7 linked regions of the Homo sapiens genome follow. The protein of the gene in region 3 interacts with the protein of the main gene of each other region in a pairwise test. Each region holds a gene or a part of one and is shown on either strand. Other genes may lie near its edges. The genes, in order: ACTMAP, CTSO, LMO3, CDYL2, BEND7, MAP3K9 and GRB10.

Region 1 (3,500 bases), on a different chromosome or scaffold from region 3:
CCTGCAGGGAAAAGCGCTGGGTGTGTGTCAGAGGCGCAGGGTGGGTGGGGCTGCCAGCCAGGACCCTGGCCTGCAGCCTGATCCAAACCAAAGACTGTAGAACCCTGGGGTGTGGCTAACGGCCCCTCCAGCACCCATAGCCAGGTCTTCCTGGCCCTTGAGGCTGGGCTGGCGGACAGGCACCTACCTCTTCCTTAAGCTGAAGCTCCCACACTGTCTTCCAGGGCTGAGGAGATGCTCTCCTTTTCTACTGACCATCTTGATACTTATTTATACGAGAGGCAGTTGCTGGACGGGGTAGTACTGGGAAGCAGGAGGCAGAATGGCTCTGCTGAGCCTCCTACCCATGACAACACCCCAATAAACAGAACATTCAGAGCCAATGTCGTAGAGCTTTTTATTTTGCATCTGGAGTGTATTTGGACACGTGGGCTGGGTGGGGTAACAGGATAATGAGCAGTTTGGGAAAGAGGCAGGCTCCAAGCAGGCTGGTTCACTCACTTGGCAGTCACTGGGCGGCTATTCTTGTGCCTGGATGTGTTACAATGCAGGGGACACAGTGGTGAGCAAGGCTGCTCCAAGCCCTGGCTGGGATGGGGGATGCACAGACAGGCTGATCAGGGCTGGGATGGTGGACACGCATCCTCTTTACCCTGATCACTGGTTAGAAATACTGCACTGTGGCCGGGCTCAGTGGCTCACACCTGTAATCCCAGCACTTTGGGAGGCCGAGGCGGGTGGATTACTCAAGGTCAGGAGTTCGAGACCAGCCTGGCCAACATGGCAAAGCCCCGTCTCTACTAAAAATACAAAAAATTAGCCAGGCATGGTGGTGCATGCCTGTAATCCCAGTTACTTGGGGGGCTGAGGCAGGAGAATCACTTGAACCTGGGAAGTGGAGGCTGGAGTGAGCTGAGATCACGCCACCGCACTCCAGCCTGGACGACAGAACGAGACTCCATCTAAAAAAAAAAAAAGCAACAGTGCTCTGTAGTTTCCCTAAATGAGATGGGCTCAGTTAGGGACAGAGAAGTGATCCAGACAGGCCTGTTCCTCCTTCAGAGTGGAGGGGTCAGGTATTCATGAAGCTAGTAATCACACACACTCACTAGAAGTTTGTATAAGTGGACAGGAAAGTTTGTGGTCAGCACCATAATGTTCAGGGAGCCAGGAGACAGCCTGGCTGAGATACTGACTACCTAGCTTGAATCCTGACCTTGCCATGTGCTAGTCATGTGACCTCAGGCCAGTGATTCCACTTCTCCAGGCCTCAGTCTTGCCATCTGTCAAATCGGGTCCATCTAGCACCCCCCTTACAGGGTTGCCAGATCTGCTAACACAGGTAGAGGGGCTGGCACAGGTAACTGCTCCCAGATGGGCTTTAAAACTGTGAAGACATGAGGTGGGGGAGGGGTGTCTTGACTGGGGCTGCAGGACTCTTCCCTGAGGTAGTGATACCTGAGCCCCAATGGAAAAGTTAAGGAGTGATCCGCAGCAGAGGGCTGGGGGTGGGACTCAATGATCCGGGGATTTGAACAACACTTCAGGGATCTAAAAGGCCAGTATGACTAGTAGGTGGCAAGCATGAGGAAGACCTTGGGCTAAGGAGGGGTGAGCTGAGGCTGACGCAGTTCAGTGTCCCTGTCCTGTGAGAAGCAGAGGGCCCAGGCAGGAGGTTCCTCAAATGTCTAGTGAGATGACAGAGGCGGCCCCTAGTGAGAAACAGACGATGCGACATTCAGATGGAATAGGCAGGCCGCAGGGTCCGGGCTGTTGTCAATCTCTCCCTAGAGGGACCAGCTGGTGCTCAATACTGCAGGGGGTGGCCCTGATGAAGGAGGACTGGAGACCCCTGAGACCTAGCTTCAATCTTGTCGCCATCACACAGTGGGAGAAGTGTAGGCACACTTCAAATGGTTACCGAGCTAGGCTGCAGCCTGAGACCGCAGCCGCAGCTAATGGCTGCAGTCCTGTGGTGTGAGGAGCAGGGCCTGGCCACAGAGGCCAGCCCGTACCCCACCCACGGGCACCACGTACACCCGGCCGTCAGTGGCCCGTGAGGGCGAGAAGTCCGTCAGCTGCAGGTTGCTCTCCCGGACCTGGTCGTAGTCCCACAGCTGATAGTGCCAACTCTTGCCCTGCTTGGACAGCAGGTAGACAGCTCCCGGGGAGCCCTCCTCTGGCAGGGATGGTGGTTGGCAGGGCGTGCCCAGCACTGGGTGGAACAGGCCCGGCAGCTCAGGGTCCTCAGTGTAGCCGAGACTGGGCACAGCCCGAACACCCAGCAGGACCCCTGGGGGAGAGGAGAAGGTGGTGAGTGGCAGTGACTGAGCCAGGACCAGGTGCTGGGGCTCACTAAGTTCCGCCCTCTCCCGGCCCTCCAGGGTGGGTGCAGCTGCCATTCCTAGGTTACGGTGACGTTAGTGGTGGCCAGTGGGTTGGGATTTGGACCCACCGTGGCACCCGGCTCCAAAGCTGTAGGTGTTTTAAGTCTTGCCTCATCTGGCCTGAGCACAGGGGAGGTGGGGAGGCAGCATGAGATGAAGCAAATGCCGTCACCCGGTCATCCTCAGCTCTTTAGGGAAGAGGCTCCAAGAGGAGCTGTCAAGACCACAAAGCCATGAAGAAGCTGAGCGGAGCCTCCCCCGGACCTCCTGACGCGGACCAACCTGGCCTTCTTTCTTTCAGGCAGGGGGAATGATGAAAACGGTGCTGGTAATACTTACAGAGACATGTCACACGCCAAGCCCTGTTCTATTTTTTTTTTTTTTTTGAGATGGAGTCTTGCTCTGTCACCCAGGTTGGAGTGCAGTGGCACGATCTCAGCTCACTGCAACCTCCGCCTCCCAGGTCCAAGCAATTTTCCTGCTTCAGCCTCCCAAGTAGCTAGGATTTCAGGCATACACCACCACGCCTGGCTAATTTTTGTATTTTTAGTAGAGACAGGGTATCACCATGTTGGCCAGGCTGGTCTCAAACTCCTGACCTCAAGCGATCCACCCACCTTGGCCTCCCGAAGTGCTGGGATTACAGGCGTGAGCCACCGCGCCTGGCCAAGCCTTGTTCTAAGAGTGCTGAGTGCTCTGCCTACAAGGCAGCCTTATGAGGTGGGTACTGTTACCCCCAATTTCCAGATGGGGAAAGGAGCTGTCCAGAGAGGTGATGATACCTGCCCAGAGTCACAGAGCCTAGAAGAGGCTGTGCCAGGCCTGGAGCCCAGACGGTCTGATCCTGAAATCTGTGCTCTGAGCTTCTGTTTGTAGAAGCTCCAACTGGCAGACACCTGGGGCCCAGCCTGCCCGGTGCTAATGCTAAGTGCCCAGCCTGGCTGGGGAGGCACCAGCACAAGGGGTGAGAATGTCAGGAGGATTAATGGAGGCCGGGGAGACCCAGGTTGAGGGGTGCAGACAAAGGAGGGGGAACCCACCTGCACTCACCGCCCAGTGTGCCTTGTGGCCCTTCCTCTGACACGGCTCATGGTTGAAGTCCTCGTCGTAGCT
Region 2 (3,500 bases), on a different chromosome or scaffold from region 3:
AGAGGATGAGAGTATTTTAACTGAGCATTTATTTTGCCAGTCTCTGTAATAAGTGTTTTCCAATTATTATTTTATTTCATCCTTACATTCTTCCAGATCAGTATTACTCCATTTGTTGATGGAAATAAAGCTCAGAGAGGTTGATTATATAGCCAAAAATTGCACAGCAATGGTAAGACATTTCAAATTGTTGCAAAGTTAAAAAGAGGCCAGGCGCAGTGGCTCATGCCTGTGATCCCAGCACTCTGAGAGGCTGAGGCGGGCAGACCACGAGGTCAGGAGATTGAGACCATCCTGGCTAACACGGTGAAACCTCATCTCTACTAAAAAAAATACAAAAAAAATTAGCCGGGCATTGTGGCGGGTGCCCGTAGTCCCAGCTACTCGGGAGGCTGAGGCAGGAGAATGGGGTGAACCCGGGAGGCGGAGCTTGCAGTGAGCTGAGATCACGCCACTGCACTCGCCTGGGCGACAGAGCGAGAATCCGCCTCAAAATAATAATAATTATTATTATTACGCTGTGTTCAGAAGCCTCCAAGGAAGTACTTTTAATGTTATTAATGGTTTTGCAAAATCAAAACAAGTGGGTAGAGATTAGTGGTAGGGAGAGGACGAAGCAGAGCACTTAGTGGTTTAGAGTATTTTGCTGTTGGCAGGAAGTCAACAATTTGTATAAAGATTGAGTAGCCCTGACATGGGCTATGGAGAGCTGTGAAATGACAGGAGTCATTACACCAGAATAGCAAATGGAATTCTTTTAGAAGTTGGCTCCTGGTTGAACAAGTGGAAGACAGCAACATTTTCAGAAGTCCTGCAGACACTAGTGCCGCTGACATAAAGAACAGTGTATCAAGTGGTAACAAATAGAAAATATATGTGGAGATATTTGTCTTTTCAAACACATGGCACAAGACCAAAACCAAGTAACTGTTATTGGAATCATCATTGAAAATTAGGGACATAAATATTTAAAATAAATAAATAATACATTCATTTATTTCATTATTAAATTGGTGTTATTATAACTACTTCACAACCGGAACACCTAAACTTTGGATGGTGAAATGACACTTATAAGGCAACACAAAAATTAAGAGAAGTACATGGGAACTCCCTGCCAACGATGTATAAGTTTGTTTCATCTGGCATTTGCCAACTTGAGTGGCAATATATTGTTTCTCTCGTAGATGTCACAAATGATCTAGTGAGATAAACTTGCATTAGCTCTCCAACTAAATAGAGTATGTGGCTCAACTACTGCCTCCCCTCCCAGACACACGTGTAGAACCCACACGTACAGCATTGCCTACACTCAAGAGTCTAAAATCCATTCCTAGAATTAGATTTTCTTAATTAAACAATTTGTGTAATTTTAAGGATCTTGAAAGGGCGTACCAGTCTATACCTCATGTGCGTGCGTATGTGTGTGTGTGCGCATTTGGTGTGGTGTGGTGTGTGTGTGGTATATTCCTTTTTTGTTCTGTTAATATGGTGTATCGTACTGATGATTGATTTTGAAATTTTAAACCAACCTAGCATTTCTAAATAAACTTCACTTGGTCACAATATATTGTCCTTAACATATATTGTTAGATTTGATTTGCTATTTTGTTAAGGATTTTGTGTCTACAGCGTATTTATGAGGGATACTGGTATGTAGTTCTATTTTATTTAGATACATTTTTCTGGTTTAGAATCAGGGTAACACTGGTCTTATTTAAGTTGCAGCGTATTCCCTTCTTCTTGATTTTCTCAAAGGATAATATTGGTATTACTTCTTTCTTCATTGTATAAAGTTCACCAAAAAGCCACCTGGGCCTGAAGTTTTCTTTGTGAGTCAGTTTTCACTTACAAATTTAATGCCTTTAGCTGATAAAAGGCTGCTCAAGTTTTCTATTTCTCCTTTCATCTTTGGCAATCTGTGCCTTGCAAAAAGTTTGTCCATTTTGTACAGTTTGCCAATTTATTGTCATAAAGTTGTCAAAATATTATTCTTCTAATGCCTGAAGCATCTGTAATCATGGCTCTTCTTTCATTCCTAATATTGGTAAATTGGTTATTCATGTCTTCTCATTCTTTTCTTATTTTTTATTTATTTATTTATTTTTTTGAGTTGGAGGCTCGCTCTGTCGTCCAGGCTGGAGTGCAGTGCTGTGATCTCGGCTCACTGCAACCTCCGCCTTCCAGGTTCAAGCGATTCTCCTGCCTCAGCCCCCTGAGTAGCTGGGATTATAGGCGCCCACCACCACGCCCGGCTAATTTTTGTATTTTTAGTAGAGACAGGCTTTCACCATGTTGGCGAGGCTGGTCTCGAACTCCTGACCTCAGATGATCCACCGACCTCAGCCTCCCAAAGTGCTGGGATGACAGGTGTGAGCCACTGCTCCCAGGCTTTTTTTTTTTTTTTTTTTAATCAATCACAGGAGCAATTCCTGTGAACTAATAGGGAGAGGTCCAGGTAGAGCTATCTGATTGCAATGTAATTCTGACCCTGAGTGAAGGAAAAAAGGAAGGAAGACTGGGGAAGAGTTCCATGCTGTCTCACAGTCCAAGGAAACTTTGGTTTGGCAAGGCCATCAGGGAGTCATTAATCAAAAACCAGCTGTCAGGGGAGTCCCATTTGTCTCCCAAATAGCAAGCCTTAGCACTAAGTCATGAGCTAGGTGCAGCCCGTAAGAACTGTGGCTTCCCTTGGTGTGATCATGGAGATTTCAACTAGCAGCAGCTAAACTCCCTATAGAAAGAAGGCTGGGAGGCACATTCTCATGGCTGCCACATTCTCTCCTGTGCATTCTTAACATCCTACATTTTCAGTGCCTTCCTGACTACTCCAGCTCACAAAGATGGCCAGGCAGTACTTATTGAATGAATGAATCCTCTGAATTCCTTAGCAGTTAATAGTCTCTGGCTTATATTTGTCATTTGCCATATACAGAATTACCTTGTATTCTAGTTCTATTTTTACATTTATATATCCAGGTTATATTGAAAGCCTTGCTTCATCAAGATTATTTTAAAGTACCTCAAAAACTTTATTAATTTGTTGATTAGCAATCTTCCTAGGTATGCACAAAAGGAAAAAAAATAAGATTATGACAACTTCCAGCAATAATTTACTTAAAAATAAACAGCTTAAAGTTATTAAGGGCATGATATGGAAAATGTCACTTATCTATTTATTCAACAACAAACACTTATCAAGGATCTATTGTGTGTCAGCCATGTGCTAAGTGAGTGTCTCACCATAAGGAATAAGACATATAAGCAGTCATCATTTTGCTTATAGGTTTTTGATACAGACACACAATAAACACATAAGTACATAGACAAATATGTAGAAGCGCTAGGGTTGGAAAGGTACCAAATGATAGCCCCCTGAAATTTTATTTATTCTATGTAATTGGTTAGTATTACGAAATTGAAGCATGTTTATATATAAAAGATAAGCTTAAGATAAATTGTCACAAAATTCAAAGTTGAGAAATCAGTAAATAATGGTC
Region 3 (3,500 bases):
GACAGTATATTATCCTTCAATTTCTGGTCTAGCTATATATAGTTTACAGCCTCATTTACTTTAATGTGCTACTTGAATAACATAATCATAGCTATAACTATGGTATAGAGCCATAAGGTGCATGCATGCGCCTCTATGTTTTTTGACTATTTAAATGGCTTCTTCATAAATGTATTTTTAATAATAATGGCAAACCTTTTAGTAACTAAATGTCAAAAAGTAGTGAATCATTCATTAGTTGGTTCCTTTCCCAACTAAAATGTTTAATATATAACATTAAGAGCAAAGTTATATTGCTTTTATATTTTCTATATACTCTAACCCAGAGATTTTTGCTATGAATTCACCCCCATTGACTTCTGTTTATGTGCAGTTACGTAAGCTTCCTAATGTATTTGTCTTTTCCTTTTCTTCTCAAACAAGATGTGATTTTCATCAAGGAAGGTCAACGGAGAATATATTGCAGAAGAATATTTATGCATACACCTAGGATAAAATCCACTTGTGTACATCATAAAGCATTGTGTATTGTAGCTTTACAGAGTATATTAACATCATCTCTCTTCACGATCTCAGATTTCTCTGTAAGAGTTTGTAAAAAAAAAAAAATGTTTCTTATTCTAGGCTCTTTGGTGTAACGGGAAACTGCGCTGCCTGTAGTAAGCTCATCCCTGCCTTTGAGATGGTGATGCGTGCCAAGGACAATGTTTACCACCTGGACTGCTTTGCATGTCAGCTTTGTAATCAGAGGTAAGCAGGTCTCTTTTTGGTCTCTAAGAAATGGTTAACCTCTCTGTGCTGGCTATTTATTTAATAGGTGGAAATTATATTCATACATTTAAAGCAATCAATCTCAGCGTTTTTCTGTTCTGTAAACTTTAATCCCATGCCAGAGACAAGCTACTAAGGAGAAGAAAGGTCTTAAGACTTACTTCTACCTGAAAGAAAAGCATCATATAAGAGCAAGTAACAGAAAATGGAAACACTACCGTAAACTCTGACTTCTTTTACTCATTCCTTCTTTTATTATTTTCCTGTCTTTTTAAAAGTAGTTTTAAATATCTACTTTTTTATACTACTTATGTGAGTAAATAAATTGGCAATGAAGCAAATATACAGGAATTTGTTGCAGGTATTTTATATTCTTATTATTTTTTATATTTTAAATTCCTTATCCCTCATGTTTTTGTTTTTGCTTTTTTAAATACAAGGTCTGGTTCTGTCACCCAGCCTAGAGCGCAGTGGCACTAACATGGCTCATGCAGCCTCAACTTCTGTGCTCAAGCAATCCTCCTGCCTCAGCCTCCCGAGTAGCTGGGAGTACAGGTGTGCACTCCCATGCCTGGCTAATTTTTTTTTTTTTTCATTTTTTATAGAGATGATGGAGTTTCACTATGTTACCCAGGCTGGTCTCAAACTCCTGGCCTCAAGCAATCCTCCCACCTCCACCTCCCAAAGTGCAGGGATTATAGGCATGAGCCACCACCCCCACCCAATCTAGCTGTTTACCTTAAATTTTAACCCTGTCCTATATGTACTTTTGCAGTTACTTCAAATATCTTTGAGAATCAGTCCAGATATAGCTAATAATTAAACAATTATTATCATTGGAGAGGAGCATTTGAAAAAGTGTTGAACAGGGAACCTGGAAACCTAAATTCTAATATGGGCTCTGCCACTAATAAGCTGTGCGATCTTAAACCAAACAAACACCTTCCCTCTCTGGACCTCAGGTTTTTCATTTGTAACATATGAAGCTGGATTAGTTCATCTCAGAGAATTCTTTCAGCTGAAAAGTATTATCACTTAATTCCATTTTTTCTTATTGAAAGTTATATTTTTTATTTCTGTGAAAACTATATACTACTGGCACCTGTTTTATATGATAAATGGAGAGGATTTTAGAACATTAAAATGTACGTATTAAAAATACAACATTTCAAAAATTAGAACACTTGATAGATTTTAATGAAAATGAATTCACTGACTTTCTGTGAGAACACCTGGCAGAGTATATAATCAATAAATATTAGTTGCATCAAGTTCTCAGTTATTGTAATTTACTCTGAAAGGTACTATTTGATGCAGAATCTTCTTATGAGACCCTGTAGAATAGTAGAAAGAATGTGACATTTCTAGTGAGAACGGGATTCAAATTTCAGCACCACCATATATTAGCTGATATATTAGCTGTGTGATCTTGAGTATGTTACTTAATCTCTCTGAATTTGATTCCCACACCCATAAAATAGAAACACTAACACCTCTCTTGCAGAGTTTGAAACTTAAATGAAATAATTAATTTATATTAAATGTCAGGAACACAACAGGTTCTCAAAAGTTAGTTATCTTTATAATTTACCAAATAATATTCCATTAACTTGACTTTCCCACAAGGCATGTATCACAATAGTGTTTCTTGCTAAATGTAGATATTCAGATTGTTGCCTAATGTACCTTATAATGTAATAGTTACCCAGACAGTCATGTAAGATGTTATCTTACAATGTCTTGACTCTTCCCAGCAAGTACTGAGAATCAAAGTAAGTTCATTCAGTCTAGGGTAACATTTAGACGAAAATAAATTGGCAAATGCACATGTTTTTGGTAGGGATAAGGATATACAAACACAAACATTCCCACATCCATACAGACACCTTTATGTGCATGTATATATGTATTTTATACATTTTAAAGGTGTCTTAGTAGTAAATTTAGAATACTTTTGTTGACTTGTCATGTTGATCAACTAATAGCAGCCAGTAACCATGCAGTTCCCATTATGGAATCATAAAGTCATTGCTTTTCTACTTATAAAAGATTACATATTCATAGTAGGAAATTTAGAAAATAGAAAATGATAAAAACAAGACATTGTCCCATGTCTCATTCTTCTAAAAGAAAACATTTTAATATTTTGATATATAGCCAGCCATACATGTTCCTATGTCTATAGGACAAATGACATTGTATAAATATTACACTCACATTTAAGCAAATTAAAGTTACAAGGGAGAATCCTAATGTTTGATATTTGGACTTTTTCACTCAATTTATATTTTGTGCCTTTTTTACCTGCCATTAAAAATTCTTTTAAGATATTTTAAGCTTTTCTGAGTTCAGCTTTATGGACAGAGCTTCACATATGTCTTCTATCATCAGATATATAAGTTGTATCTTCAAAAGTTTTTGTGCTGTAAATATTATCAGTATTATCAATATAAAAATGGACCTTATGAGACCCTGTAGAATAGTAGAAAGAATGTGACATTTATAGTGAGAAGAGATTCAGATTTCAGCACCACCATATAGTAGCTGATATATTAACTGTGTGATCTTGAGTATGTTACTTAATCTCTCTGAATTTGATTCCCACACCTACAAAATAGAAACACTAATACCTCTCTTGCAGAGTCTGAAACTTCAATAAAATAATTTATGTTAAATGTCAGGAACACAACTGGTTCTCAAAAGTTAGTTATTTTTATAATTTACCAAAT
Region 4 (3,500 bases), on a different chromosome or scaffold from region 3:
CTGTGCATGGTAGGCGAGTTGCCTTATATGCAATATCTTCATCTATCAAATGGAAAAATAATAGTGGTGTACACCCACAGGGACATGTGAGGTGCATAGTAGGTACTCAGCAAATGTTACCTATCTCTTTGCCTCCTAGCTGTGCCTCTGTGTTGCAGCTGGGGGAGCTGTGTGGGGAGAGCTGGACATTTTCAGTTCAAGTCCTTTTTGGTCACTGTGGAAGATTTTTGCAGTTAAGAGAGTTAGTATGGCCTAGTGAGTAAGAGAATAAGTCTGAGGTGAGAGTGGTTCAAACCCCAGTTCTGCCCTTACCATTCTGGAACTTGGTTAAGTTACTTGGTCTCTCTGAGCCCTCGTTCTCTGACTGTAAATTGGGGATAGAAAAATATTTACTTCATTGAGTTTTTGTCCACGAGAAAATGAGATGGGAGAGTCTATGCCCAGCATTTAGTATAGTGTCTGGCTCATAAGCACCCAGTGAATGTTAATGATCATTGGTATTGTTATAAGTAAGGATAAATTGGCATAGTACCTCCCATATAATTGCTCAATAAATGTTACTTATTATAAATAAGGATGAAGAACTCACACCAAATTGGTCTTTAATAGCCTGCATCTACTTTGGTGCAATGAAAAGAATAAAGATCTCTTGTGAAACCTTGCAAGGCAATTTCAAATAAAAGTAAGCCTGGATGGACATGTGGCTACCACCAGCTGGGCGTGTCATCTAGCGTCATCATGGGAAATGGCTGCATGTGCCTTAGGTTCCATCCAGTGATGTCGTAAAATAAACCAGCCTTCTTGAACCCTCCTGCCAGTGTTGGCTTCTGGCATTGAATGGCTCGTGGCTCACCCCCTGGCTAGGGTAGATGCCTCTATCCCAAAGGCTTTATGGTGTTCTTGTTGCCTCGAACTGAGTTTTTTCCTCCCTCTCTCTCTGTTTTCTGACCCTCTCATCTTGTATCGCAGGTTGAAAGGATTGTAGACAAGAGGAAGAACAAGAAAGGAAAATGGGAGTATCTTATCCGATGGAAAGGCTACGGGAGCACCGAGGACACGTGGGAGCCGGAGCACCACCTCTTGCACTGTGAGGAGTTTATTGATGAATTCAATGGGTTGCACATGTCCAAGGACAAGAGGATCAAGTCAGGGAAGCAGTCCAGTACCTCCAAGCTGCTGCGTGACAGTCGAGGCCCGTCGGTTGAGAAACTGTCCCACAGACCTTCAGATCCTGGAAAGAGCAAGGGGACCTCCCATAAACGGAAGCGAATTAACCCTCCCCTGGCCAAGCCAAAAAAAGGGTATTCAGGCAAGCCCTCTTCAGGAGGTGACAGGGCCACCAAGACGGTGTCTTACAGGACTACCCCCAGTGGTTTGCAAATAATGCCCCTGAAAAAGTCTCAGAACGGGATGGAAAATGGGGACGCCGGCTCTGAGAAGGATGAGAGGCACTTTGGAAATGGGTCCCATCAGCCTGGCTTGGATTTGAATGATCATGTTGGAGAGCAAGATATGGGTGAATGTGACGTGAATCACGCTACACTGGCGGAGAACGGGCTCGGTTTGTAGCTTTTCTTTCTCTTGGGTTTGGCTCTGGCCATGGCGAAAGGGGAGCTCTGCCTGTAGCCTAGGGACATACATAAGACCCCCACCTCCATCCCCGTCTCTTAGCTAGCCAGCAATTCCCCCTTCATCTCTCTCACCTAGAGCTTTGTGGACTCGGTCGTAGGCCCATGTTGGTTACAGACCCTCATGCATGTGGGGAGGCTAAGCCTCTGATGCTCCAGCCAAGGTCTGGAATGGGTCCAAAGTTCCAGACTCTTATTTCAAGACACCCAAGGCCATGGTAACCCCTCTAGACCCACTTCCCTGAGGGCAGCTCAAGTCCTCACCCCCAGGACCCAAGACACGTGTCCTCAGCGGGCCAGTGCCTCCCAGGGCACAGTGCAGAGCCCTTGCTTGCAGCCTCATCATGCCCCCAGCAGTGTAGCCCAGAGAGGTAGGGTCTGGGTTGGGGTCCGTGCCGTCTTCTCAGACACAGTGTGGACTTGGAGTTCACCACGCCAGTGCCTGTGCTGGAGCCTCTTGTCCTTCTGCTATCTCTAGGTTGGATGATTGACCTATATTAGGTCCTGTCTTAGTCTGTTCAGGCTGCTGTCACAAAACACCTTAGAATGGGTAATTTATGAAAAATGGAAATCTAATTTCTCACAATTCTGAAGGCTAGAAGTCCATGATGAAGGCACCAGCAGATGCTGCATCGGGTGAGGGCCTGTTCCTCTTAGCTGGTGCCTTCTGTGTCCTCACATGATAGAAGGGGCAAGGCAGCGCCCATCAGCCTCTTTTATAAGGGCCACTAATCCCATCCACAAGGATGGAGCTCTTATGACTTAATTACCTCCTAAAGGCCCCTCCTCTTAATGCTGTGACTGTGTTGTGGCTTAGGTTTCTTCATATGAAATTTGGCAGAACATAAATGTTCAGACTGTAGTGGGTCCTAAATGCTGTCTTGACCTCATCCTGCACTAATTCTTTCGATTGGCAGCCTCTTACTCTAACACAGCCTGCATATGTTGTGTTAGGTTATGGAATTCCTCCTTTTTCCAAAGTCTCTGTAGGCAAAATTAAGGAAACAGGAGGTGATGACCCATGTAGTTCATACTCCCAAACATGAGATTTCCTGTGTGGTCACATTGCCCCTTACCTGAGTCCTTCATGGCATCAGTCTTTCAGGTTAGCTGCTTGTGCCAGTTATGTGCAGTCCCTCACTTCTCAGACACCTGTGTGTCTACCTGGTGGCATTTGTCTCTTTGGCTGCCAGAGACCCGAGCCTTGGAATGTCCAGAAATCTTACAGGAGTGTGGACAACCATTGCCCAACAGGGCAGGGCCATCAGATTCCCTGATGAAACCAGGGTGCGTGTGGAGACCGGGATGCTTGGATGCAGGGGGAATGGTTAGAAGGGCTCACAGAAGGTTGGGGTGATGAGGCCAACACACTTCAGTGTGACGATGGTAGATTTGGAGTCCAGAACGTGCAGAGCTGGCTCCCCTGCAAGAGCTTGCTGTCTTTAGGTACTCTTGCTGAGAAATCTGAGCAATCCGTGTTGAGGCTCCTCTTTCTCCAGAGAGAGGAATTTCACCCAAACAGGATTTACTTAGCATCTTTGCCCCAGACTGACTCACGTTTCCGTCTCGGGATCCCTGACGCTGACGTGACTGTGCCTGTGAACATATGTAAAAGCTGTTTGTTTTAGAAATTCATCTCTCGGGGAGAAGTGGGCTCGTGTAAATGGGGCTTGGCATAAACACCCGTGTTTGATGTTGCTGTGACGGCTGCTGGCGGTGGCGGAGTTCCCTGTCTCAGGAAGGGTGGCGAGGGGAGATTTTGTGGCCCTTTGGGTGCAGGGGCAAGGCTCTGGCGGGGTTCCCTGCATTCCAGCTGTTAGCAGCTCCCTGCCCTGCTCATATGGGGCAATCCCAAGAGTAAAGCATGAGGGA
Region 5 (3,500 bases), on a different chromosome or scaffold from region 3:
TTCATCTTTATGAAGATACTGGCTGATGCACAGTTTAAGAAGATAGTGTGTTTGAAATAGCTCCTAACAGATATCAGCATCCTCTGATATTATTATTGATAGAAAATATTTTCTTTTTCTTTTTTTTTTTTTTTTTTTTTGAGATGGAGTTTCACTCTTGTTGCCTAGGCTGGAATGCAATGGTGCCATCTTGGCTCACCACAACTTCTACCTCCTGGGTGAGCCGGGTTCTCCTGGCTCAGCCTTGTGAGTAGCTGGGATTACAGGCATGTGCCACCACGCCTGGCTAATTTTGTATTTTCAGTAGAGACAGGGTTTCTCCATGTTGGTCAGGCTGGTCTCGAACTCCCGACCTCAGGTGATCTACCCGCCTCGGCCTCCCAAAGTGCTGGGATTACAGGCGTGAGCCACTGTGCCCGGCCAAAAAGATTTTCTATCTGTGCAATATTACAGACATCTTTAATATTTATTAAGTACTCCCAGTGCAGTATAGAAGTTCTTTCATTTTAAAAAAATGTCCTGAGACGGGAGAAAAATCTTAAAAAAAGAAGTCAGTGTAGGTGAAGTGGGATTTCAAAGTGGCCTGTGACCTTTCGCACACAGTTACGCTGCAGGGGAGGTGGCAGTGCGTTTGGCATGGGAGGAGGGCACGGTGGGGAGGTTGCACTTCCGCCCTTCCAGTGCTGGTACCGCCAGTGACCTCGAGTGGCAGGGACCCCTCGGTCATCACCAGGCTGATGTGATGGGAGTCAGAGTGCCAGAAAGACAAAACCCCCTCGCTTGCCATGCTGCCACACTCGGCGCCTCTCTGTCTCCTCGGCCGTCCTCTCTGAAGGTGATGTCTCCAGCGGCAGCGTGTCATCCTGGAGGACATTGTGTCAGCAGTGAAGCCCTGCATCCCTGCCAGTCATCCTGAAGGACATTGTGTCAGTAGTGAAGCCCTGCGTCCCTGCCAGTCCAGGCTTTCTTCCTTGTCCTTGCCCCGCCTGGTGAAGCTGACAGACAGTGAGCAGAGCGCTTTAGTGACCTGCCCATTCCTCACGGGTGGCTGTGGCCCATCAGAGCAGAGGGGTTCCGCGGTCCAGTTCTATCCTTGACCTTCTGTCTCAGCCTGTTTCCTCATCACCTACTCATTCAGAAAATGCTTCCAAAGAGGGAATGTCATGTTTGTTCCTGATGACACACTCTCAAGAAACCTCTTTCATCATAAGCGACTTGCAGAAAGAGATTAAAATGAGAGGCACCAGGAATAGGATGGGTTTTTTCAGACCGTAGTCAGTTTTCCTGCCTTTGCGTTTTACAGATTAAGTTCATAGAGTCAGTCATCTTTCCCATTTCCAAAGAAGGGTTGTTTTTCTTTCTCTTCTTTTTGGTTAGTGAACTGTTTTCTCTTTCACTAATTTAGAGTGCTAACTTTGGCCCTGTTTCCATTAGGAGATGAAAGCATGGAAATAAAAAAGCAAATTACAGGGATGAGAAGATTGCTGAACGACAGCACTGGGCGGATCTATCAGCGAGTTGGCAAAGAAGGAGAGAAACTAAAAGAAGAGCCCCAGGACCTGGATTTAGTCTGGCCTCCACGTTTGAACTCCTCTGCTGAGGCCCCGCAAAGCCTCCACCCGTCTTCACGTGGTGTGTGGAATGAGCTACCGCCCCAGAGTGGACAGTTCTCAGGGCAGTATGGCACCCGTTCTAGAACCTTCCAAAGCCAGCCCCACCCTACCACGAGCTCCAATGGTATGGTTGTCAACAAACATTCAGAAGGCTCTCATGGGGGTTTGTACTGTTCTATTTCTAAATATTCAGTGTGTTGAGTTCAATTTATTAAACCCTCCCATAATTACCTGCCTTTGCTGAGTTACTTTAAAAGACAGGGAGACACAAAGGAAAGAGTTGAAGACTATTAAAAAACAGAATTGAGAATTAGGAAAGACAGGGGGTTCTATGTTATAAGTGAAGATTTCCTGGTAGAGATTTTAGCCCTTTAAGAGGTTAAAGCGATCATTTTGTGCCCATGTATGGATATTATTGTCACAAAAAAAACCTGAACATTAGGGCAGAAAGAGCTCCCCACTGTCTTTAAAAGAAGCTTCCTGGTCCTATGGTGTGTTACTAACATATCCTCTTGGTTACTCCTTCACCTTACTCATTATCAGAAGAGTCCCAGATAAAGGCGGGGGCGGACAGGGGTGGGGGGCCGATAACCCAGCATCCCACGTCAGTACTGAACCCAGTGATCCATATTTTGTAACATGCTTCATTAGCAATGGAAAGTATTCCTTTAAAGTAAAATTTTCTTAATTTAAGTTTCCTAATTGTTAAGAAAAGAATCAAATGACAATTTTTTTTCAAAGCTTAAGGAGAAAAACCTGATGCTTTTTGTGGTCATATTAGTTTTCTATCCGGCCACACTGGATGCTATAATATTTGTTCTATAAACTCTGTAGAGATGTGCAGATCTATAGTTTTCACAAAGAGAACAAGAAAAAGGTAAGAAAGCATTTTCAGTTTCCTTAAGAAGTTAAGGATTTTTTTCCATTCATTTTCATTTCACAATATCCTTCAAGAAAAAGAGAACTGTTTTGACTTTTTTTAAAAACACAATTTGTGGTTCAGAGGCATGAAAAGCCATCCTGAGACATTGATGAGACAGCGAAGGACCCCAGAAATGTATGGGTGTCTTCTCTGCCTCTCAGTAGTACATAAGCCAGTATCAAAGTTCCAATGCTGGCATGCCTCCAGGTTAGAGGGACACAGCTCTTTAAAGACTCCTCCATAAAAATAAAAAGTCAGTTCTCTTTAAAATTAGAAAATGATTTATAACAAGCTGAAAAGGGTTGGTTTTGTCTTCTAAAAATGATAAAAGATGGTACTTAGAATAGTGACTAGAAATATTCTTTAAGACCTTTCTAACTCTACTACCATGGAAGAGACAATAAGAGAAATAAAATACCCTTAGGTATGTATGAAGTTAATAAACCCCACATCAGTAAGTTTTGGGTGAACAGTGTTCTGTTTCCCAGTATACAGTAGGGACAGTGGATTTACTTTGAAAAGTATGAAGTTAGTAAAAGTTACAAACATAAATTCCCCCATATCAGTTTGAAAATAGATATTTTATGTTTTCAATAGAAATATGGCTAGGCGTGGTGGCTCGTGCCTGTAGTCCTAACGCTTTGGGAGGCCGAGATGAGTGGATTGCTTGAGGCCAGGAGTTCGAGACCAGCCTGGCCAACATGGCGAAACCCCATCACTACTAAAAAATACAAAAATTAGCCGGGCGTGGTAGCGCATGCATGTAGTCCCAGCTACTTGGGGGGCTGAGGCATGAGAAGCGCTTGAGCCTGGGAGGCAGGGGTTGCAGTGAACCAAGATCATACCAGTGCACTCCAGCCTGTGCAGCAGAGCGAGACCCTGTCTCAAAAAAAAAAAAAAAAAAAAAAGAAAAAGAAATATATTACATATAACTGTGACTACTTTGGTATTTCATTGGGATTATT
Region 6 (3,500 bases), on a different chromosome or scaffold from region 3:
TCTTGTAAATTTGTTTAAGTTCTTTGTAGATTCTGGATATTAGCCCTTTGTCAGATGGATAGATTGCAAAGTTTTCTCCCATTCTGTAGGTTGCCTATTCACTCTGATGATAGTTTCTTTTGCTGTGCAGAAGCTCTTTAGTTTAATTAGATCCCATTTGTTAATTTTGGCTTTTGTTGCCATTGCATTTGGTGAAAAAACATCTTTTATATAATAGAAAAAATTTGGCTTGTCGCAGTGACTCACGCCTGTTATCCTAGCACTTTGAGAGGCTGAGGCCGATGGATCACTTGATGCCAGGAGTTTGAGACCAGCCTGGCCAACATGGTAAAACCTAATCTCTACTAAAATACAAAAAAATTAGCTAGGTTTGGTGGCACATGCCTATAATCTCAGCTACTCCGGTGGCTGAGACATGAAAATCACTTGAATCAGGGATGCAGAGGTTGCAGTGGGCTGAGATCGCACCGCTGCACTCCAACGTGGGTGACAGAATGAGTTGCTGTCTCAAAAAATAGAAAGTAAAGTACAACCAAGTCTGTAAATAAATACATGATTATATTTTCTATTCAAACCTATATATATATATATATATATATATAAATATATATAAATCACAGGCAATTTTAATGAAGAAGGAAGGAGCGACTAGAAACTCTTAGCCCCCATTTCTAGGGCTTGACCTATGGCTTTATCTTCTCTGACTGTCCCGTCAGTATGGCTGTTCTGAGCCTTCCTTTCCCCACCATTCAAGGTGGTCTAATGTTCATTTACCAGCTATCGAGTCCTCTCTCTTCACTGAGCATCATAGGAGAGCTCTCCAGGTCACCATAAGCCCTCTGGGAGCTCTCAGGCCTCACCCCAGAGCCCCTCTGCACTGAGCACCCCAGTCTTTTCTCTGATGGTTCTGCCCATCCTGCAGGAACTTCGCACCTGGGAGGAGGAGCTGACGCGGGCTGCACTGCAGCAGAAGAACCAGGAGGAACTGCTGCGGCGTCGGGAGCAGGAGCTGGCCGAGCGGGAGATTGACATCCTGGAACGGGAGCTCAACATCATCATCCACCAGCTGTGCCAGGAGAAGCCCCGGGTGAAGAAACGCAAGGGCAAGTTCAGGAAGAGCCGGCTGAAGCTCAAGGATGGCAACCGCATCAGCCTCCCTTCTGGTCAGTGGCCGGGGACTGGCTGGGAAGTGGGAGCAGGGCAAAGAACTCGTGTGGCAGAGGGTTTGAGGGAGTCCGGGACTGAGCTTGGAAACATGACACCCTGGGGCTCAAACTCCAGCCTGTTTTAAATGGGCCATTCTGTTCACTGGAAAGACTGGCATGTTGAAAATCTACCCTACTCCAGGGAAATTGTTGCATGTGAGTGAACACAGAATATGAAGTGAGGACAACCCGGCAAGGTCCAGGCTGCTAGAAGCCTGGTGGCTCACAGGGGCACATCTCACTTTAGGCAAACCTGGAGAAGGAAGCATGAAGTTGGGGGAAAACATTCCAGGGTGTGCATGTGTGAGACACGAGAAGTTTTGGCTCTGCAAAATAACTTGTCTCAAGGTTTCTTTTTTTTGAGACAGAGTTTTGCTTTTGTTGCCCAGGCTGGAGTGCAATGACAAGATCTTGGCTCACTGCAACCTCCACCTCCCCGGTTCAAGTGATTCTGCTGCCCCAGGCCCCCGAGCAGCTGGGATTACAGGCGCATGCCACCACGCCCAGCTGATTTTTGTATTTTTAGTAGAGACAGGGTTTCACCCTCAAGTGATCCACCCACCTTGGCCTCCCAAAGTGCTGGGATTACAGTTGTGAGCCACCACTCCTGGCTGACGTTTTTTTAATTAGTCCCCTGAGTGCAGTTGAGACTGGGTTTAATGTATGAGAATTTACATGATAAGATTTACATGTGACCTTTCAGACACACACATCAGTTGAATAAACATGCATTTGTTGTACTGCAGCCTTGGGGAAAATATAAAGAAATATGAAACTATTAATTAGAATCTTTGTGGTGTGTAATATATCCATGGAGGGAGCCGAATGCTAAAATGTGTGTTGATGTAGATAAAGATATTCACTGTGTTCTAAGTCTATGAGGCCCTAGAAAGCAGGCTTATTAGAAGTGTAAGGAACAGGCCAGGTGCAATGGCTCATGCCTATAATCCCAGCACTTTGGGAGGCCGAGGCGGGTGGATCATCTGAGGTCAGGAGTTCGAGACCAGCCTGACCAACATGCAGATACCCCGTCTCTATTAAAAATACAAAATTAGCCGGGCATGGTGGTACATGCCTGTAATCCCAGCTACTCAAGAGGCTGAGGCAGGAGAATTGCTTGAACCTGGGAGGCGGAGGTTGCAGTAAGCGGAGATTGCGCCCTTGTACTCCAGCCTAGGCAACAAGAGTGAAACTCCATCTCAAAAAAAAAAAGTGTAAGGAACAAAGAAAGAATGGTCTAATGGGGCAGGAGTAGATGATGTTAAGCACTAAAATGGTGGCTTAATTAAGTACAGATAAGGGAACTCATTCCATGCAGTTGAGTGAATATGTTTATGAGCCGTGTTTGCTGGTCCCCTTGCTGCACATTTGTTTTTCCTTTTCAGACAGCATGGACTCTTTAAGCACCCTTTGAGCATCTAGCATGTGTCAGCATATTGTTGCATGTCAGGATGCAGATAGAAAAGCTATAGTTCCCACCTGCAGGGAGATCACAGTCTAATGGGGAGACATAGGTGCAAGCAGCAGCTGTTTATTTTACCTCTTTGATAGATGAGGAGACTGAAACTCAGAAATTCAGACCTGTAAGTTTTACATTCTTTATGCTGTACTGTAACTTCCTTTGGAATGTGTCCGAATTGGAGCCATTTGCTCCATCTCCCTCACTGCCCTAGGTTCCCACAAGGGCTAGTCATTGATACCCTGCTGTGCCTGCACTTAGTGAGAAGAATCAGTGTCCCTGCTTCAGTCCCTGAGAAAAGAGGACCAAATCTATCTGATAATAGATTATGTGAAACCAATAATTTTAAGTTAAATTTCCTAGAATAATCAACAACATCTCATGAGCTAAACAGCTATTCTTAATACATAACTGCTTGAACTATATTCATTATATAGACAGCTTTATGAAGCTCACAGATGAAGTTCACTTGCACAGTGAATTTTCCATCTTTTTATACGTTCATCTCCCCATGTCCCTTGGGAAAAAGAGATGATTCTAAAAGAGAACATTTCCCAGGTGAACAAAGAGCTTTTCAGGAAACTGGGGCCTGTCCCTCAAGGATGCTGAGGAATGTCATATTTCTTATATGAATTTAATTATGGGAAATGTTAATGCATACACGTGTTTGTCTTTCCCCAAGCAGATTTCCAGCACAAGTTCACGGTGCAGGCCTCCCCTACCATGGATAAAAGGAAGAGTCTTATCAACAGCCGCTCCAGTCCTCCTGCAAGCCCCACCATCATTCCTCGCCTTCGAGCCATCCAGTGTGAGACTGTTTCCCAAATTAGCTGGGG
Region 7 (3,500 bases), on a different chromosome or scaffold from region 3:
AAGTAATACAGTCACAAAATGTGTTTCTGTAGTGGCAAATCTCCTGGGAAAGCTAACGGATTGTTGATTTTGTGAAATCGTAAAAATTGTCAAAAAAATTACTTGAGGACACAGCCTATGATGGGGGTTTCTGAGGTATGTTTAAACATGGGGAGGGATTGGAAATGCCGAGTGAAGATAATGTGAGGTTTGCTCCCCTCTCCTTGAAGGTAGGAGGCTGCAGACAGGGCCGCGTGGCCTCAGGAAGGGTGGAGGAGGCTGTGTGTCCAGGAGTGCCCTGGAGGTGTGGGCCAGAAGTTACTCTACAGAGGGGAGGTGCCAGACACTTGACATTCGCTTTGACTTTGAACTTGATTTCTCTGCTGTTCACAGTTGCTTCTGATTCGTCATACTGTGTGTGTGTTGCATAGTTGTGTGACAAGTGGGTTGTGCATTTTTCGGAGGAGGGAACAGATGCCCCTGGAGATGTGCCAGGAAAGTAGAGGTGGTGTGTGGATTCAGCGTGTGTTTCCAAGGTGTGTTTCTAATGTGGACACAGGCTTTGCGAGGACAGATACATGAAGCTATAATTTCCAGTTAATTCAGTGTCAACAACCTTTTTATATAAGTAACCATCCATTGCATAATTCAGATGAGAACACACAGCCTTTTCTTGTATTTTCATTTGATTAGATTAATGCTCATTTCAAGGACATTGAAAAACACTTGGTTCTCATGAAAATGCTCATATTCAGAAAACTTTCACACATCAGGTATTCACTGATCAAACGGATGAGGTATTTGGAGCTGATGCCATGTCAGGCACTGAATGCTGCCTGAGATGAGCACGCACCCAGGACAACAAAACTTCGGCACCCCGCCCCCCGCCCCCGATGCCTAATGAAGAAGAGAATTGATACCCAATACCCTTTGGGTCTGAGAATGACAACTTGTAATTTTTTTAAAGTTTTCGTTTTAGTAAAATACATGTAACATAAAATTTACCATATTAACTGTTTTTTTCAGGGTACAGTTCGGTAGTATTAATGCACACTCACAATGGTTGTACAATCTCCAGAACTTTCTCATCTTATGAAACTGAAACTCTGTCCCCAATAAACAGCGATTCCCCATTGCCCTCCCCTTAGTCCCCTGGCAGCCACCCTTCTATTTTCTATGGGTTTGAATACACTACCTACCTCACTGGGTGAAATCACACAGTGTCTCTGGTTTTGTGACTGGTGTGTTTGACTCTGCATAATGTCTTCAGGGTTCATCCGTGTCGTAGCCTGTGTCAGAATGTGCTTCCTTTTTCATGGCTGAGTAGTGTTCCATGGTATGGATATGCCACATATTGTTCATCCATTCATCCATCTGCAGACCCTTGGGATGCCTCTACTTTTTGGCTTTTGTGAAGGATGCCACTGTGAACGTGGGCATGCCAGTGACTCCTAGAAGCCCTGTGTCCTGCTTTCTGGGTGTATCACCACAGTGGTAAGGCTGGGTCATGTGGGGAATGGCAGCTTTTAACAGGCACTTATCCCTGCCTTCCAGGCGCCTTCAGGAGGAAGACCAGCAGTTTAGAACCTCATCTCTGCCGGCCATCCCCAATCCTTTTCCTGAACTCTGTGGCCCTGGGAGCCCCCCTGTGCTCACGCCGGGTTCTTTACCTCCGAGCCAGGCCGCCGCAAAGCAGGTGAGTGTGCCCCTGGCTGGAGCCCAGGCTGAGGGATATGCCAGATTATTGGGATCTGCACAGATGTGCCAGATTATTACTTTGGGAAGAAGGGCGGGAAGTCCTGGGATCTTCTCTCTCAGTTCTTTTCTTGTTGTCACAGTACTTGTTGTCCTATGAGGCCGATACAGTTTGGATGTTGTCCCCTCCAAATCCCATGTGGAATTGTAATCCCCAATTTTGGAGGCAGGGCCTGGTGGGAGGTGATTGGATCTTAGGGGTAGATTCCTCATGGCTTGGTGCTGTCCTCACAATAGTAAGTTCTCACGAGATCTGGTTGTTTAAAAGTGCGTGTCATCTCCTCCCCTTGCTCCCACTCCTGCTGTGCGAGACGCCAGTTCCTGCTTTGCCTTCTGGCATGATTGTAAGCTCCTAAGTCCTCATCAGAAGCCGAGCACATGCCCGCACCATGATTCTTGTACAGGCTGCAGAACCATGAACCAATTAAACCTCTTTTCATTATTGATCAAAACTCTGTTTTATCTTTATATTTTAGAAAAAGTCTCATAAAAAATGGCAAATAATAACAATGATTTGATGTTTAAAGATGAATCTTAGTTCTTTGAAAAAGTTTCACCACTGGCTCAATAATAGGTGTGAAAATGCTGGGCTCACCCGGGCACCTGGATGTCAGTACACAGGAGTTGAAGAGTTTCTGTCTTGTAGTCCTGACTTTGAATATGATCTGCCGAAAGCAGAAGAGTTTCCATTGGACCCGCAGGGCAATAACCTCCTTTTTGAACTTGTAGTTTCTACTTAAAGTAGATCCATGAAGTAGATAGGACACAACCATTGTCCCCATATGAGGAAACTGAGGCACAGAGCATTTCAGTAATGTGTCCAAGGTCAAACAGCCAACAAGTCAGCTTAGCAGAGAAACTGGCAGAGAAAGGGGTTGAAAGTTCCTCCCCACCGGTTGGCAGGGCTGTGAGCCAGGATGGGCTGCAGCCTCTGGAGGAAGACCCCTAGGGGTGGAGGTGATCATTAGAACAACTGCGCCATCTGATGTTTATGGAGTGAGGGATTTCTGTGTGCCAGGCCTTGTCGTAAGTGGTGGATATGTTTATTTTTTGTTTATTTATATGTTCATTTACTCCTCATGCCATCCCGTATGAATTAAGTACGCATGTTCCCTCTGTTCCACAGTTGAGGGAAGGGAGGCCCCTGTAAGCAGCTGAGCTGAGTGTGGCTGAGACCTGATGGTGCGGCTGAGTGTGACCCGGCCTCAGAATCGGAGCCTGTGATTGCAGCCACTGTGCTGATTGGCTTCCCGGGACTTTGACTTTCCTTCTGCTAAATGCATATTTAGAAGTCATTTTGCCCTTCTACTTGAATCATCTCTTCTCCCTACTTGCTCTCACTTCCCTACCTTTGCTGTTCTCAAGCAAGACAGGCCAGCCATCCCTTTCTCTGCAAATCTGCCTGTCCTGTGCCATGCAAGGTCTGTCCTCTTGAGAGAGAGACCTTTTTCCAATACCCGCTGGCTCCCAAGTGTGGGTCCCGTTCTGACCTCAGGCCCCCGGAGCAGGCTGCATTATGGCACTATCAAAACTTAGAAGGTGAGGTAAGTGTCCCTCATCTGGGAGCCAGCACTGGCTGGGCTTGTGCACTTTGTCACATGTCTAAAGTGCATCTGGGATGTCTACCTCGCTGGTGACCTTCTGCTTCAAATAAGGATCCAGACAAGCTGTCTGTGGGTTTTGTCACTGAGGTTGTTTACAGAGCTACCCATTCTAAAATAAGACCATGAAAATATTATCTGGCTCTCTCAGCCTTTGGCAAGAAA

The links.
Region 1: the proteins of LMO3 (region 3) and ACTMAP interact in binary tests that used the Homo sapiens proteins (3 or more experiments, as listed by UniProt).
Region 2: the proteins of LMO3 (region 3) and CTSO interact in binary tests that used the Homo sapiens proteins (3 or more experiments, as listed by UniProt).
Region 4: the proteins of LMO3 (region 3) and CDYL2 interact in binary tests that used the Homo sapiens proteins (3 or more experiments, as listed by UniProt).
Region 5: the proteins of LMO3 (region 3) and BEND7 interact in binary tests that used the Homo sapiens proteins (3 or more experiments, as listed by UniProt).
Region 6: the proteins of LMO3 (region 3) and MAP3K9 interact in binary tests that used the Homo sapiens proteins (3 or more experiments, as listed by UniProt).
Region 7: the proteins of LMO3 (region 3) and GRB10 interact in binary tests that used the Homo sapiens proteins (3 or more experiments, as listed by UniProt).

Annotation. Positions count from the first base shown.
Region 1 is NC_000019.10:40,740,478-40,743,977, forward strand, and holds the end of ACTMAP (actin maturation protease), read right to left. Parts: coding exon of another isoform or gene 3,499-3,500; coding exon 3,428-3,498; intron 2,294-3,427; coding exon 1,956-2,293; 3' UTR 1,713-1,955; coding exon of another isoform or gene 1,596-1,712; 3' UTR 1,388-1,595; coding exon of another isoform or gene 1,228-1,387; 3' UTR 963-1,227; coding exon of another isoform or gene 743-962; 3' UTR 384-742; downstream 1-383. UniProt on the Homo sapiens protein: Actin maturation protease that specifically mediates the cleavage of immature acetylated N-terminal actin, thereby contributing to actin maturation.
Region 2 is NC_000004.12:155,943,867-155,947,366, reverse strand, and holds part of CTSO (cathepsin O preproprotein), read left to right. Parts: intron 1-3,500. UniProt on the Homo sapiens protein: Proteolytic enzyme possibly involved in normal cellular protein degradation and turnover.
Region 3 is NC_000012.12:16,557,663-16,561,162, reverse strand, and holds part of LMO3 (LIM domain only protein 3), read left to right. Parts: intron 1-624; coding exon 625-750; intron 751-3,500.
Region 4 is NC_000016.10:80,682,599-80,686,098, reverse strand, and holds part of CDYL2 (chromodomain Y-like protein 2), read left to right. Parts: intron 1-969; coding exon 970-1,561; intron 1,562-3,500.
Region 5 is NC_000010.11:13,498,015-13,501,514, reverse strand, and holds part of BEND7 (BEN domain-containing protein 7), read left to right. Parts: intron 1-835; exon of another isoform or gene 836-1,005; intron 1,006-1,434; coding exon 1,435-1,737; coding exon of another isoform or gene 1,738-1,776; intron 1,777-3,500.
Region 6 is NC_000014.9:70,740,014-70,743,513, reverse strand, and holds part of MAP3K9 (mitogen-activated protein kinase kinase kinase 9), read left to right. Parts: intron 1-922; coding exon 923-1,163; intron 1,164-3,349; coding exon 3,350-3,472; coding exon of another isoform or gene 3,473-3,500. UniProt on the Homo sapiens protein: Serine/threonine kinase which acts as an essential component of the MAP kinase signal transduction pathway. Plays an important role in the cascades of cellular responses evoked by changes in the environment.
Region 7 is NC_000007.14:50,667,897-50,671,396, reverse strand, and holds part of GRB10 (growth factor receptor-bound protein 10), read left to right. Parts: intron 1-1,533; coding exon 1,534-1,675; intron 1,676-3,500.